Regions from separate parts of the Homo sapiens genome. Here regions 1, 2, 3 and 5 are each reported to be linked to region 4. Evidence: microRNA targets listed by miRTarBase, many of them from high-throughput screens and not tested one by one. Region 4 holds a microRNA gene; each other region holds the end of a gene's coding sequence.
What was found. Region 4 holds the annotated microRNA hsa-miR-4446-5p (AUUUCCCUGCCAUUCCCUUGGC, at 1,927-1,948, opposite strand). A microRNA usually pairs through its seed, bases 2 to 8, with sites in the 3' UTR of a target mRNA and lowers its output. Matches are read on the target gene's strand: a 7mer-m8 pairs with bases 2 to 8, a 7mer-A1 pairs with bases 2 to 7 and ends in A, and an 8mer does both.

Region 1: the mRNA of SKA2 is a reported target of hsa-miR-4446-5p. Seed matches in the 3' UTR shown: 7mer-m8 at 1,326-1,332.
Region 2: the mRNA of MCTP1 is a reported target of hsa-miR-4446-5p. Seed matches in the 3' UTR shown: 7mer-m8 at 672-678 and 7mer-m8 at 2,405-2,411.
Region 3: miRTarBase lists DCAF5 as a target of hsa-miR-4446-5p. Seed matches in the 3' UTR shown: 8mer at 2,652-2,659 and 7mer-A1 at 2,452-2,458.
Region 5: the mRNA of ZBTB43 is a reported target of hsa-miR-4446-5p. Seed matches in the 3' UTR shown: 7mer-m8 at 695-701.

Annotation. Positions count from the first base shown.
Region 1 is chr17:59,109,556-59,112,555 of GRCh38, reverse strand. SKA2 (spindle and kinetochore associated complex subunit 2) reads left to right here. Exons shown (of 4, transcript NM_182620.4): 4 at 211-2,699. The coding sequence ends at 279. The region is part of intron 1 of LOC124904039 (a long non-coding RNA gene); the gene reads right to left. Among named protein-coding and RNA genes, the nearest start is that of TRIM37, 4.2 kb to the right of the region's middle.
Region 2 is chr5:94,704,712-94,707,711 of GRCh38, reverse strand. MCTP1 (multiple C2 and transmembrane domain containing 1) reads left to right here. Exons shown (of 23, transcript NM_024717.7): 23 at 145-3,000. The coding sequence ends at 216. Among named protein-coding and RNA genes, the nearest start is that of SLF1, 88 kb to the right of the region's middle.
Region 3 is chr14:69,051,189-69,054,188 of GRCh38, forward strand. It overlaps DCAF5 (DDB1 and CUL4 associated factor 5), which reads right to left. Exons shown (of 9, transcript NM_003861.3): 9 at 1-3,000. The coding sequence ends at 2,669. Among named protein-coding and RNA genes, the nearest start is that of ACTN1-DT, 73 kb to the left of the region's middle.
Region 4 is chr3:113,593,678-113,596,830 of GRCh38, reverse strand. It overlaps MIR4446 (microRNA 4446), which reads right to left and starts at 1,955; the gene lies at 1,889-1,955. All of the region lies in intron 10 of SIDT1 (SID1 transmembrane family member 1), which reads right to left.
Region 5 is chr9:126,833,462-126,836,461 of GRCh38, forward strand. ZBTB43 (zinc finger and BTB domain containing 43) reads left to right here. Exons shown (of 3, transcript NM_014007.4): 3 at 1-3,000. The coding sequence ends at 452. Among named protein-coding and RNA genes, the nearest start is that of ZBTB34, 26 kb to the right of the region's middle. RefSeq lists an enhancer at 1-246.

The DNA.
Region 1 (3,000 bases), not on the chromosome of region 4:
AATTGCAAGTTCTTTAGAAGCTCAAACATCATAGGACCTTGTATATAAATAGCCAAGTATCTGTTTTTTCCCTTGCCTTTCTAAATCTGTGATTACATACATAGTATAAGCTTAGGGAAACATTTATTGGTGTGACAATGCAGAAGTTAACTAAACTGATTTAAGTCTTTGAAAGTTTTTGAAATAAAGATTTTATCATTTATTTTCTAGCTGTCACCACTGACTAAAGAAGAGAAAACTGCGGCAGAGCAATTCAAATTTCACATGCCAGATTTATGAAGAAATGGACTTGGAAAGGAAATTCTAACAGAGAAGAGCTTAATTCCGGAGAAATTTAGGAAGATGTCTTGTTAACCCTTGATGTCTAGAGATTGGGGGCTGGTGAAGGGGGTTTGGCTTCAATGACTGGATAATGATATCTTTCATGAGAGAGATTATAAGAAGAAGGGCAGATAATATATGAATAAAGTTCAGCCAAAAGGATCAAATGAGAATAAAACGATTTAAATATATGTACACACGCATGCACACACACACTTAGTCTTGTAATTTCAGGCCAGAAATTCTCAACACTATTTTGCATCTGTTTTCTTTTTCTAAGTCATGATAATATAGATGTTCTGGTCTATCATAAAAGAATGTTTATGTACATTTCAGTCATTCGGTATGTGGCTTTGTAAATTAAAGTATAGGCAAAACATTTGTGTTATACATGATATATAATTTCATTTTGTAAATGTTGATTGCACATGTGGTCACATTATTGTTGAGACTGCTTTTATGTGACCTGTAGTCTCCCACAGAACCTAAAGTAATAAGCTGGCTTTTCTGTGATAGCCACGTTTGCGTATTTCTTTCCCTATTTCCCTTGCCTGCTAATGTTGAACAGCATGAACTTGCTTTCTGATGCTGTTTTAGACTGTCCCTGTTGTATCTCAATAATATCTTTGTTTTCCTTCAGCCTTTATTACTATAATTGTTCATTCTACATGAAAGCTAGGAAACTGAAATTAGAAGAGCACTTATCTGCTACTTGCCAGTTTTGCGTGAGTGTGTTATATGTATGTGTCAATTTCCCTTTAAAATAACTATTTATTTTAAAATAACTATTGGCAATAAGGAAACTGTTCAAAGTAGAGGCAGATCTTGATAGAAAGATGTTAATCACAGGGTTGTTTATAATAGCAATATACATACACATTTGGCTAGTACTAGGTGAATAGGAAAATAAATCATGCTGTATGTATACAATAAGAGGTCAAGTTGCCAATAAATTATTACTGTTAATGTTCTGGGAAATGCTGAAACTATGCTAAGTGGGGGAGAGGGAAAGCAGGTATTGCAGTTTTGTAGTGAAGATTGGGCTTTGGAGTCATATCTGAGATGTAAGTAGCAGCTTTTAAATTCTAGCTATGACCCTGTGCAGATCACTTAACTTTTGAGTGTCAGGATGTTTGGAAGGACAAGACAGGAAAGTGTTTTAATACAGGGTTCAGTATTTAGTAAGCCTTCAATAAGTGATATTACATACATGTAATAAAAACTAAGCATTGAAAGGACTAGGAAAAATGCATCAAATGTTAGTTCTGCAGGTTATAGAATTATACTTTTATGTAATTTTAAAATTTCAGTTATGAACATGTTTGTCCATTAACAAACTTATAATAGCTGAAAAACAGGGTTGTGAGAACAGCTTCAGTTAAAATTGTCCTGTCTAGTTTGAATATTTCAAGAACAGAAAGCCTTTTTTTTTTTTTTTTTTTTTTTGAGACGGAGTCTCACTCTGTTGCCCAGGCTGGAATGCAGTGGTACGCTCTCAGCTCACTGCAACCTCCACCTCCCAGGTTCAAGCAGTTCTCTGCCCCACCCTCCCGAGTAGCTGGGATTACAGGCGCCCGCCACCACGCCCGGCTATTTTTTTGTATTTTTAGTAGAGATGGGGCTTCACCATCTTGACCAGGCTGGTCTTTAACTCCTGATGGTGATCCACCCACCTCGGCCTCCCAAAGTGCTGGGATTACAGGCATGAGCTACCGTGCCTGGCCCCCTTTTTTTTAATTACAGAGAAATAAGTTACACCTTAGTATCAGATATTAATTTTCTTCAGTGTTCAGGCAATTAGTATTTAGAAAGCTCTTGTCATGAGATGGCTCTGGGATGTGATGATGATTGTTGGGATTGAAAAAACGGTAGTATCATGGAGAGATCATAATAAATTCTTAGTATTAAAAGTGGTTTTGCTTTCAGTTAGGGAGAAAAATTAGATTGTACTATTTTTCCTCTATGATTTCCTTCAGTTATCTTCCAAATGTTGTTTTTTCCCCACAGCCCCCTTAACATTGTTCTCTATGCACTTCTCAATACATTTTCATTTGTTTCTCAAGCCTCTTTGTGGATGACTCCTAAATATAACTTCTTCCACTAGCTCTAGATCCGTATTTCCAATAAAATCCCCTACCTGAATATTCAAGTTAAACATGTCCAGAATACTTACTGATTTTATTGTTAATAGCCACTATTCTGTTGTCTGGAATTAAAACCTGTATAACTAATTTGCATCCCTTTATCTTCTTAGTCAATAAAACCTACAATCCTCTTTCTAAAATGGTCATAGTATACAACCTCTACATTATCTTCACACCTCCTTAATTTAGATCTTTTGTTTCTCATTTGGATTATAATTGTTTTCTCCTATGTGACTATAGTGTCTTTATGTCTTAAGTTATAAATAATACATGTTTAAGAATTTAAAAATCACAGGCATGGCCGGGCATGGTGGCTCACGCCTGTAATCCCAGCACTTTGGGAGGTCGAGTCGGGCAGATCACAAGGTCAAAAGATGGAGACCATCCTGGCCAACATGGTGAAACCCTGTCTCTACTAAAATTACAAAAATTAGCTGGGTGTGGTGGCACGTGCCTGTAGTCCCAGCTACTCGGGAGGCTGAGGCAGGGGAATCGCTTGAACCCAGGAGGCGGAGGTTGCAGTGAGCTGAGATTG
Region 2 (3,000 bases), not on the chromosome of region 4:
TTCTGCATCTCAGCTGCAGATCCCATACAGCTTCTAGAGTGAGCACTTTCTTCCCCCAAGCACCGTCTCTCATTCCTTTGCTGTTCCTTTCTTTGCCAGAAAGTGGCCACCTGACCAGTCTTCCTCTGAACTCTGTTTAAACAGGTGCAATACCAAGAACTGAAACCAGATCCTTCTCATAGCCCATATAAAAGAAAGAAAAACAATCTTGGCTAGCCAGCTCCCAGCACTGAGGAGACCAGCATCTGTTTGGGAAGATAAAAGAAAAAGCCCTCAGCCTCAGCAGCATTTCCTTTCTTTCTGCTTTTTATTTATTTTGCCTTTTTATCATGATCGAGAGAATCTGTAAATAGTGTACAAAGGCATATGTCTTTGAATATATACTTCTATTGTACAGACTCAACTTGATAAAGGTTTTGCTACTGCTGTGTCAAAACCTTGTTAGCTGTGGATAATAATATAACACACTGAAAGAACAAATATAAGAATGATAACACTGGAAGATATATTCTTATCTAATTACTAGTGGATTAAATACTCACCTGTGCTCTGATTAAATCTACATCAATTGTAAATGTCGATTTGATTTTAAAGTTTTTTTTTAATGCGACTATTTTTTATCTGAAAAGTAATCCATTACACTTTTCTATGTTTTATACATTTCAAAAGGGAGGGAAATTCCAAAGCCTGAATAATGGAATGGATACATTTCAATTTAACATATATTCTGGCTTTAGATCCCGACATTCACTCCTGTGCAAATTACTTAGGTATGACTTAGGCTAATTTTAAGCTAATAAGTGAAGGTACATTCACTCCCTCAAGAGAATCAATACTCAGAAGGTTACAAAGTTTTCTTTATAGAATTTCAATCAATCATTCCATCTAAAACCTTAAAATCTCTACAGGACTACATAACATAAATACTGCCAGTTTATAAACGATTGCCTATCTGAATTTTTATACCTACCACTACTTTAATTTATACAGTTAGTTAGCAAATTAGCAACCCAGTAAGTACAGTTATCAAAAATACTAGGAAACTATATCCATATCGCTTTTGGTGTCAGATTGTATCTGTGCATCTAAAAATATTTTAATAAATACTCAAGTGCTCTCAGAGAAAAAAAAAACCTGCTTTCTCATTAGATTACTGAAATGCTTTAATTCATACTATGATTTTGTTATTAGTGTGAATTTTAATGTAGAGAATTCAGTGTGCTAAGTGATATGCCAGTGTTTCACTACATTCATTTATTAAAAAAAATCATTCTTGATTATGCATGAAAACCTGTTTTGTAAAATAAAATAAACTGCTTGGGGGTGGTGGTTGCCTTTATCAATGTTTCACTATTATCATAGAATCTATACTTAAAAATTGCATTCCCAAGACTCTTAAAGTAGTTTTTATATCTCACTCCCTGGTATACTAAGGGAGCATAACTCTGGAGAAAAAATAATTTGGTTGGTTGAGAATGTCTTACTTCCCTGACTTGGTAGGGGACTACACTCAGTTGAAATTGCAGCAGACAATGCTTTGCACTACTTTATTAATAATAAACTTGGATGGGGTAAAAGTGGGGGTTATACTGGAAAAACTATAGAAAAGCTAAAAGAAATGTATATTTCACTCTAAAGGAAGATTCTTTAACAATAAATGTAATCTCATTGAAGCTGATTTTTAAAGTATTTTTATTTTAGAGATAAGTTGTTAAATACTATTTCTTATAATAGAACTATTTTGATCTGTTTATATACTATGCTTGAATGTCAATTAAATTCCCTTTCTACAGAAAGGCTTTGACCTCAACATGCTTTATTTAATGTATCATGTTTAAAATGACATGCTTCTGTCTGCATACCATCACTGTTTGTTGCTAAAAACATAATGTTCCATGAACATGATGTTACTACAGAAAGTTTATTGATGAGATAACTGTTTGAAATAACTTTCAATTATACCTTATGTGAGACTTTTATGTTCTGTGCTGACAATGTGTACTCAAATGTCTATAAGCCTGATATTCTACAACCTCAGATGTATCTAGTGGATAGTAACCATTAACAGATGACTAATTTGTTTCACTGTATCAAATTTCAGATGTTTAGTTCAATGGTAATGCTGACTACACATTCACTGTATTAAATACAAAAGAAAATAATCTTTCCCACGTATAATCAGCACTCCTTTTTTTTTTTTTTTTGGTGGTTCAGAGATTGATGAGGGATTGTGTGCATATTCTTAAAAACTATATGTCACTTGGAGAAAAACAGATTTGGTTTAAACAAATAAGACCTTTTTCCTGAAACTCTGACTCTTATATGAAAATACCTCTGGAGGGGTGAGCAACCAATGACATTAACAGAGGAATAAGAACTAGCTTGAGGCACAAAAGTGATATTCAGGGAAATCTTCATTGCTTTTAGAAACTACTACATTCACAGGCTGAAAACAGAATATGTATAGTTAAAATTTTAACTATTTATTTCTTTCCCCTTCTCACATAGCTGCAATTCTGTCTTGAGAGCTGCCTGACTTGCCTTCATTTTGAGATCTGTGATGTAAATATTTCTTAAGAGACTGAATGTCACTCAAACATCTACTTGGACTGCTAACTATTATAGATATTGTGAACTACTAAATATATTCCTTTAGTATCTTTTAGTGAGTAAATTCACTGAGTCATTATTTATATTCATAAACTATTACTGACATTCGTTGTGATAATTCATAAGAAATGCGTATTTGTGCTTTTAAATTTTTCCCCACTTATCAAAAAGAACATAATAGTACTTCTCATTCATTCTGGTACTGTTCCAGACTCAAACTGATTGATTGATTGAATCTCCCAACTCAGATTATCCTAGTGCATATAGAATGTTCAAAAACTGGAATTCCTACAGAACCTATCAATCAATCAATCAGTTTTTGAACATTCTATATGCACTAGGATAATCTGAGTTGGGAGATTCTTAAAAGGACTCTGTGATATATTTATC
Region 3 (3,000 bases), not on the chromosome of region 4:
TTATGTACAGAATGCAGGAAAAAAACATAAGAGGCACTTCCAAATAGTTCTTGATCTAATCAGTGCCATCTGTCCTGCTATTAAAAATATCTATTATGGAAGAAATTGGGTATTAAATGTGCCATCAAAGTTGGGGCCTCAATTCTAAAAGAGTTTAGGCAAAGGTACTCTAGAAGTGGTTCCTGCCAGGTTTCCAGACCCACAACCATAGACACAAAATCTCTGGAGATGAGGGTGGAGCAGCTATAAAGCAAGCATTTCTCACCCTGCTCATGTGTGTGTCTTATGGGGCCTATCACCCGGTAAGCTGAGCCTAGGATGCTGGGAAGCCTCTGCCAAGGATGGAAGGCATACTTGCTAAAAATGATCTTTCTTGGCTTCTCAAGTTAACCAGAATAAACTCTGATTTCTCTTTTGAGTACCCAAATGAGATTAAGGCTTTTAACATGAAAAGACCAAGTTCTGCATTTGGGAATTGTAACTACCAAGTAGCTAGTTCCCAAGGGAACTTTAACTACTTCTTTTCAGGAAGATATGTATCCGATTGTCCTTTGAGAAGTCAGAAGAGGCTAAGTACTTATTAAAATAAAATAAATAGAATAGAATAAAATAAAGGACTGGGTGTGCTGACTAAGAAGGGGAAGAGAAACACACACTGAGTGATCGTATTTTTTTTGTATATAAAGGATTAAAAAATTCCAATTTAATACATTTTGGAAAAGCAAATGTAAAATGACTTGGGCTTATAAAACCAGCATTTACAATTATCTGTGAATAGTCAAAGACAAATCATAGAACCAATCTGATTACAAATCCAAAGTAATTCTAATGTTGGTTACAGAATCACTTTCCCACTCCCCCAGTAAAAGTCCAGGTGTTAAGTTGTACACACCCCCATGCTACACACACTCCTTCATCTCCTTCTCAGTGTTTTCATACCCCAGCCGCATTACACACACCAGGCACATCTTCTCTTTCACAGAGCTTATCAGGATGGTATCTCCTTTTGGCTTAAACCAACCACCTTGTGTTTATAAATAACCCCCCCACCCCCAGTGCCTGAATTCATCCACATCTTCTGCCTTCATAGGCAGCCTCCCCTTGGCTCCAGTTCCAGCAGGACAGGCCTTCCTCTGAAAGGAAGCCTGGGGCAGTGAGGCCACACTAGTCAGCGTTCGGCCCTCCCTACACCAATCCCAGCTGGGCTCCTAGTTGTCTAGCACCTTTGCACTCAAGAAAGTTATATTGTTTTTCTCTCTCTTCCTCATTTCTTGCCAGTATTCTGCCTTTTCATAACATTTATGCCAACAAGATATCTGGTCATTCCCAGACCTTCCTGTTTTGCACAACCCTTCATAGATAACCGAGTGACTGCAACGCTGAAAATCTGTTGCTCTTTTCTCTTCTAAACCTGTATCTACCTCAATAAAACTGAGTCTTTTATGGGAACCAGAAGACTTAAGACTAATGGGAACCAGGAGTCATAAGCCAGAGACTCCTCCCCAACACCTTCTGACTCCTAATAGACCTACTCAATAAGAATCTGTTACCTTGAGATGCCTACTGCTCTGCAAAGTCTAGTGAGAACACCACAGCCTCTATCAACTGCAAGTCTGAGGGAAGATGCCAGTCCCACCAATTCTGACCAATGGTTCTGGGTTGAGTTAAATGAATATAGTACCACATTCTGCTCCTCACTAAGCTTCTTCGTTAACACACCTATAACAACTACTTTAGTAGCCTGAGCACAAAGCTCTGGAAAGCTGTCTTTGCCCTTCTTTCACTATGCCTCGATCGATCATGGGAGCCAAGGAAGCACCTGCTGGCCTTGTGAGTGCCTCTTAGGATCTAGCACCTAACTGGTTAAAGTCTGTTATCCATGACTAGCTCTATTTTATGGCCTTCATACAGTACATGTTGCAGCACTGCTCAATTTGCAAACAGTGAAATTTATCAGGAATCTATATTCTCTTGAATCTGATCTTAAGTGCTAAACCTCTCATTAGCATTAAAAATTCTTTTTTATAGTATGTCCACATTAAATGCTCAATAAAGAAGTGTTACTTAGAGAAAACATGGAAGATTTCTTTAAGAAAGGAACCATGCTTTCCTCTCCAGCGCAGCCAATGGGCTGAAGGCCTGTTTCCATTCTCCATTCTTCCAGCATAAATCTACAACTCACTGGCAGCACAACCTGATTTAACAGGCACCCATCATCCAGACCAGAACACCTATGGCATGTAAACAGGGTGAGATGGCAAAAAGTACAAATTCATAGGTCCTTTCTGATGGAGAACTAAAAGGAAGGTCTTATGAGACAATAAGCGCACACGTGCCATTGTGCGTACACAAGAACAAGTCGAACGTCTCAACAAAGATTTACTTCCACAGAGCCTTGCGCGGCACACTACGCTCACGTCTCACTAGAAAGGAGTCACTTGGGTTATTTTTTTTTCCCCTTTCTTAACACAGCACAAGCCAATGGCCAGCTAGACATTCAGACCCGTTGTTGAATGTTGGATAGAAGGGAGCAGCATCAGACACAAAATTTCAGGCCCTGGTTTCATGTGCCTTTAATACTTGTTTTTCCTTTCCTCTGTATTCACTAAACAATTTTTTTTTTTTTGTAAGGCTACTTTTGTAGCTTTTTGTTTTCCCTTTGTATTTATCATGTTTTTAATTTCTTCTCTGAGGAGGAATTCTCTGAATCTGTATCTTCCAATTCAATTCGTTGCCTTTTGAGGCCACTGTGGCCATGAACAGCCCTGCTACTATCTGTGGCTGGGGTGTCAGTGGGGTCCTCTCTTGTTCCAGCATTGGGGGTCTCACAGGCCATTTCAGACCCGCAACAATCTTTGTGTAGGAGTGTCCCTGTCAGGGACGAGTTATCACGGTCAGTGTCTGAGTGTCCTGGGGAAGAGTAGGCCACCACCTCCAGCTCCCCCAAGTTCTGCCCGTTATTGTGAGGGTGAGGGGGACGAGGGTGTAAGCGTCCATTGT
Region 4 (3,153 bases):
TAACCTCCTCTTCTGTTGTACCCCAGTTCCTGGTGGCAACTCAAGGGGTCCCAGAGGCCTGTTGGGGAGGCTTCATTATTTTTCTCAGCTGGTAACTGAATTTCTGTAGAGGCTCTTTAACAATGATGTGAAATGTGGGGTTTCTCTCTGATAAAGCCAGTGGAGGAAATGGTTTTAGAGCACAGAGCCTTTCTTAGTACCTCTCAGATTCTCACAGATGCCCTGTCTTTGGTATTAAGGATAATTAGACAATACAGGGTCCAGTCATTCATAGTACAGTAAAAAAGTCCCTTCAAGTCCCCTGGAGCAGCTCTTTGCCAACAGTATTTCCATCTCACCCAGGCTCCAGGGTCTAATCTTCTTCTTCATCCCATGAAGTATGAAATACATTTTTTTGCTTTTTATTATAGTTGGAGCTAACATGGAGATTTTCACATACAGCTTAATTAAATCACTTCAGGCATATCAAAGAAAAACAAATGCAGAGTAGCGCACAGATTTTCTGAGTGCATCCTTCCTAACTCCAACAGAGCTGCCACCAATTTGGCAACCTGTAGGGACCTGATTCCATTTCTTCCACTTCAGTCACGTCTAAGGTGAAAGCCTTAGGCTAAGTTCCACAGATATCTAGCTCCACAATGATGTGGGCAGAGACCGTATTAAGTCTAGTGGGATCCTCTTCCCCTTTAAGAAGCTGCTTCTAGCATTTTCTCTGGATATAAGCACCCAAGGCATTTCCTGTAACTCTGAGCTCCATCGAACTTCCTGTGCCCCATGGTCATGCTGATCCTGGCCTTGGGAGAGAAAGACATTTCTGTATCCTTGTTTCTTCCCTGAATGTCTGTCACTAGCTTCCAGATATGGTCCTTACTTGCCTCTGTCTCTTGCTCCTGGTTGATTTCTCTATGCTCTGTTTGAGATGCCTAAAAAAGTCACTGGTTCTTCCCTTGGGCAGTGCTTGTCTTCTGCTCTTGGTTTAAGCATCTAGGTCTTGACTCACCAGTGGTCATGACATTGGGGGTGATGCCATCATTCCCTGTGGCCTCTCTACCTTACAAAGGTTCCTTATTTTCTTCCTATTTCAAGACTTTTGTGTGGTGAATATTCCTATTCCCTACTTCTTACCTAAGCTGGTGTGTTATTTAGGTGTCTTCATGTGTTTAGGTCCATGGTTCTCAAACAGGGGGATGTGGGGAAAGAGTTTTGCCCCCAAAAAGACATTTGGCAATGTCTGGAGGCTTTTTTTTTTTTTGAGACACGGTCTTGCTCTGTCACCTAAGTTGGAGTGCAGTGGTGCGATCTCAGCTCACTGCAGCCCCAACATCCTGGGCTCAAGCGATCCTCCCATAGCAGCCTCCGAAGTAGCTGGAGCACAGGTGCACACCACCACGCCCACCTAATTTTGTTTATTTTTTGTTTTTATGAAGACGAAGTCTTACTATGTTGCCTAGGCTGGTCTCGAACTCCTAGGCCCAAACAATCCTCCAACCTCGGCCTCCCCAAATGCTGGGATTACAGGCATGAGCAACTGCACCAAGCCTGGAGGCATTTTTAGTTGTCCCAAGGAGGGGCAACTCCTAGAATCTAGTGCACGGAAGTGAAGGATGCTATTAAACATCCTATAAGATACAGAATAGCCCCCAACAACAAAGAATTATCTGGCCTATGATGTCAATAATATTGAGTTTGAGAAACTCTGGTCTTAGAGAAGAGGACCTAATCTTAATTCTGAAAGTAGGTTTATCTGATGTGTAGGTAAATCTGTTCTTTGCAGTGACTGGTTTAACAATAAGTGTATGATTCACTCTAGGCCAATGAAACACAAGAAGTTGCTGAGGGCTTCTTAAAAGGTCCTTCCCTCTGGTGCTGCCAGGTGAAGGTGTGAGCCTTGACCCATGTCACTGCCAGCCCTGGGAGTAAATTGAAGCCAAGGGAATGGCAGGGAAATGGACCAGAGCCACTGGACTCATCAATCCTGAAGTACATCTTTTGGCTCTACTTCCAGAGCTAGGAGTCTCTTTCTTGATTAAGCAGGTTTGAGATTTTTTTTTTCTTGTTGCTGTGGTTACCTACAGCCACATGAATCTCAATGATGCATCTTTACTCTTTTTGGTCACTCATTTGTTTCCGCTTACCATCAGAAGGGTACCTCCAGCTCTTAGCTAATTTTCAGAGCCTCCCTGAACCTGGACAATGATCTGGCTCAAGTCCCAGCTTTGTCCACTTATGCTTCAATGTTCAACAGACCCTTCTGAATGCAGAATTCCTTCAATAAATATTATTATAATAAAAAGACTTCACTCATACTATAAAAAATAACAGACTAACCATTCAGAGGCTACCCAATGGGATTCAATCGATTGGATGTAGGCCTAAGTTCAACTAGGCCTAAACTAATCACAAAACTTGGAGGCACAAAACTTTTTTCCTGTAGGAAAAAAGATGACATCCAGAGAGCAGACAAATTCATTTAAACATCTGACGACTAAAAGGGAGAGGAGCATTTAGCACTTTAAAGCCACGAGAGCAGGTGTTCTTTTATAGTCTTTTATATTGACAGCTGAATGTTTATAAAACAAAGTGCTTGGGTGGCTGGAAAAACAGGCATGCTGACATTAAGGAAGACAAACATTAAAAAGAAAAAAGCAAACTCTCCAGCAAAGGGAGCAATGATCCTGCTGGAGGGGGGTAGGGGGTGAGTTAAAGTCTTTCTAAGATTCTGTGGCCTCATTTAAGTGTGGAAAACACACACCTAAACATCTGCTATGTATGACTTAAAAACCAAGTTCCACTTCATATTCCTCTTTAACCAAATTCTTGCTCTATGCCAAATAACCTATGAGCACTGAGTTTAGGTTTTTCAAAAATGAGGACATTTAAATTTTTAATTTTGTTAAAAAGATCAGGTCATTGAATTCTTTTGTTCAAACTCTCAGAGTGGAGGAAAAGGCATAGTACAATTGCTGGATAGTCAATTACTCTGGATTCCCCCAAGTTATTATACTCTTTATTATACTTGCTAGGGTCAAGTATTTCAGTTTTCTAGACACTTAAGAAAGCCTCCATCTTAGTTTGGGAAAAAGTAAACCATGTATCAGAGTTGGCACAATACATTCTTACTGTTGTTCACAAATCAGCTTTGGGATAGGACAG
Region 5 (3,000 bases), not on the chromosome of region 4:
ATGGCTCTTCCATGGAAGAGTTTTCCGGAGAGAGGTCAGATGGGAATCTAATTGGGCACAGACAGGAGGCTGCCCTCGCAGCAGGTTACAGTGAGAATATTGAAATGGTAACAGGGATTAAAGAAGAAGCTTCCCACTTAGGATTCTCAGCCACTGACAAGCTGTATCCTTGTCAGTGTGGGAAAAGTTTCACTCACAAGAGTCAGAGAGATCGGCACATGAGCATGCACCTCGGTCTTCGGCCTTACGGCTGTGGGGTCTGCGGTAAGAAATTCAAAATGAAGCACCATCTCGTGGGCCACATGAAAATTCACACAGGCATAAAGCCGTATGAGTGTAATATCTGTGCAAAGAGGTTTATGTGGAGGGACAGTTTCCACCGGCATGTGACTTCTTGTACTAAGTCCTACGAAGCTGCAAAGGCTGAGCAGAATACAACTGAGGCTAACTAAAAATAGGATCTGGCCCTTGAGTGGCATGCACAAAAATAAACTATGGTAATTAATGCAAATCTGGGCACAGATGATGCGTGCTACTTGCTATTATGAGAGAAGCTTAAAAAAAAAAAGGAAGATATTTCTGAAAGACCAGCTCTAAGTAGGCCAATTAAAAAAATCTAATTCCTCAAATTTGTGTGTTCCAGTCCTGGCCTGGAATGGGTAATGGGGTGAGTTAACCCACCGCCCAGCTGGCAAGGGAAACCTTCTGACTGGTTGTGATCGAAACAGGTGGACAGAGACACCTGCACTTGGAACTGGACTCCACCCACCAGTTCCATTTTGGGTGGCAGCAGCTTTGGATCACTCATTATTACAAGGTCATGCTGAAATTTTATTTTGCTCTTGCTATAGATACTTAGGTAATGTGGATTTGTTTTGGTAGCTATTTCACTGAAGGAAGTGCTACTTATATAAAAGCTAGAAATAATGTGATTCCTAGGATGAGAAATTGGTTAACAGAGCTCTGTTGTCTGGTTTTAGTCTTTCTAAAGGATATTTTAACTAAAACTATGGAGATGCTAAGAGAGTGACTTTCTAAATATGAAACAGATAATTTACGGTACAAGGCTGACATAGTGCCCTTGTCAGTTTCTGTAAGATGCCACTACTGTCACAAGGTGTTTCAGACTCTTGATAAGGCAGTGTTTTGTATTTTAGTTCTAACATTGAGTTTGGACAATTTTATCTAATTGTAATTCTCTAGGGTGCCAGAGATAGGTATTTCTCATTGGTTTGCTTTCCCAAATCCTGTTTGGTTAATTGTAGCCTCCATACAGTGGGGTCTTCTCTGTGGCTGGTAGACACCAAGCTGCTGTGACTGACCACGGTACCACGGGCTGCCACAGCCCCTGCTCTGTCTTAGATTATGGTGCTTTACAAAGAGAGTGGTCCATGACCACACTTAGTGAGAAGGAGCCACAAGTTGTGGCTGAGAGTTCCCTGTGAACTTGAGTAGTTCATAGAGTGCTAAGGTGACACTCCACCAACCAGAGTGAGAGGGCAGATAGGCAGGATTCTATGAGTGGTTATACTTAAGGGGGACAAAACTGCCCAAGAAGAATCTTGAGAATACACTCTTTCAAGGTGGGGGAGATACTCTTTAGAGGGTACACTGAGCTAATACTACCAGTTCTTTATGAGCACTGGAATGTGTTTGTAAAAGGAGTCCTAAGTTTAGCAAGGTAGTCTACAGAACCATGCTCCCACATTATAGATAAAGCTGCTTAAACTTAAAAGTCCACAAAGCTACGCCGACCAGAAAAAAAAAATTAAAAAAACAAACAAGAAAAGCAACTATTCTGAGACCTTTTCTGCCCATCAGTTAGATGATTTAGGTTAAAAAGAAAGGTAATATTGCACATGCTTTTAAGCTGTGTAACATACCTGAGGTTATCACCAGGGTAGGACAGGGTGCTACTACCATGTCATCTTTTCCACAATCGTACTGGGTTATTTACTTCTAAATAGAAACTTTTTTTTCTTAAAATAAAAATAATTTTTCTTGGATTTGGGGTGAAATTTTATTTGAAAAGTTTGGCTTTGCTGTAATGTAATAGACATTGCTGGCAATGGCCTCTGATTCTCAAGCTCCTAACACCAGGGTGTTTACTTGTTGAACATTGTCTGGAAAGAGGAAAGAAAATACTTATTTACCAGTTAACTCTTGTAAGCAAGATTACAAACAGGGATTTATTCACAACACTGTATCATTCTCGATATATAAAAAGCACTTTGTATTTAAAACTTTATTATAAATATATATATATATTGTTTTTTTTTAAACCTAGAAACTAGATATTACCTCTTGGTTGTTTGCCACATTAATAGCTTCTCTTAGTATTGAAACGTTACTGGTTAGCAGTCTTTTCTCTGTGTACCTGACACACGTATACTGAGGGGATTGTACAATCAAGCCTATTGTCTCCTTTTCTTTCACTCATGGTAGAGGCCAGTGGGTTTTAGGTATGATCCTAGCCATTATATTTGAGGAGAAATTGTTCTATTACTCCTACTAATTTCAGTACTAAGGTGGTGATGCCATTTTGTTCTGCCAAAAACTGATCACCCTCTCCCATGGTATTAGCAGAGCATTTTCTGCCTGTTTGGAAGGTTTGATGTCCTGTTTCTCATTGAAGACTATTTACATGATCATTAGGACATTGCAGGAGAAGTCTGAGAGGTAAAAATACAGATATTCTGGGAGAGTCGTGGTCCTTCAGTTCTGCTGAAATCAGCATAGTGCCCTTGTCATGAGGAAGAGTTTCTGTTCAGCCAAGAGTGGTGGCACGCTTGGGTGGTAGTTTTGGAAGCAGTCAGTTGTGCTAGGACTTATTTAATATGTTGTGAAGAGAAGAGTGTCTTCTTGAAAGCCTTATGTGTCCATCAGCTACTAAATGTAGAACTTAAATAAGTTGCTCACATCTGTTCTTTTAGTGTTTTGTGGTATTTGAGGTTTTGGCAAAAATTGGGATTTTTTTATCAGGCAGCCAGAGCCTGGGAG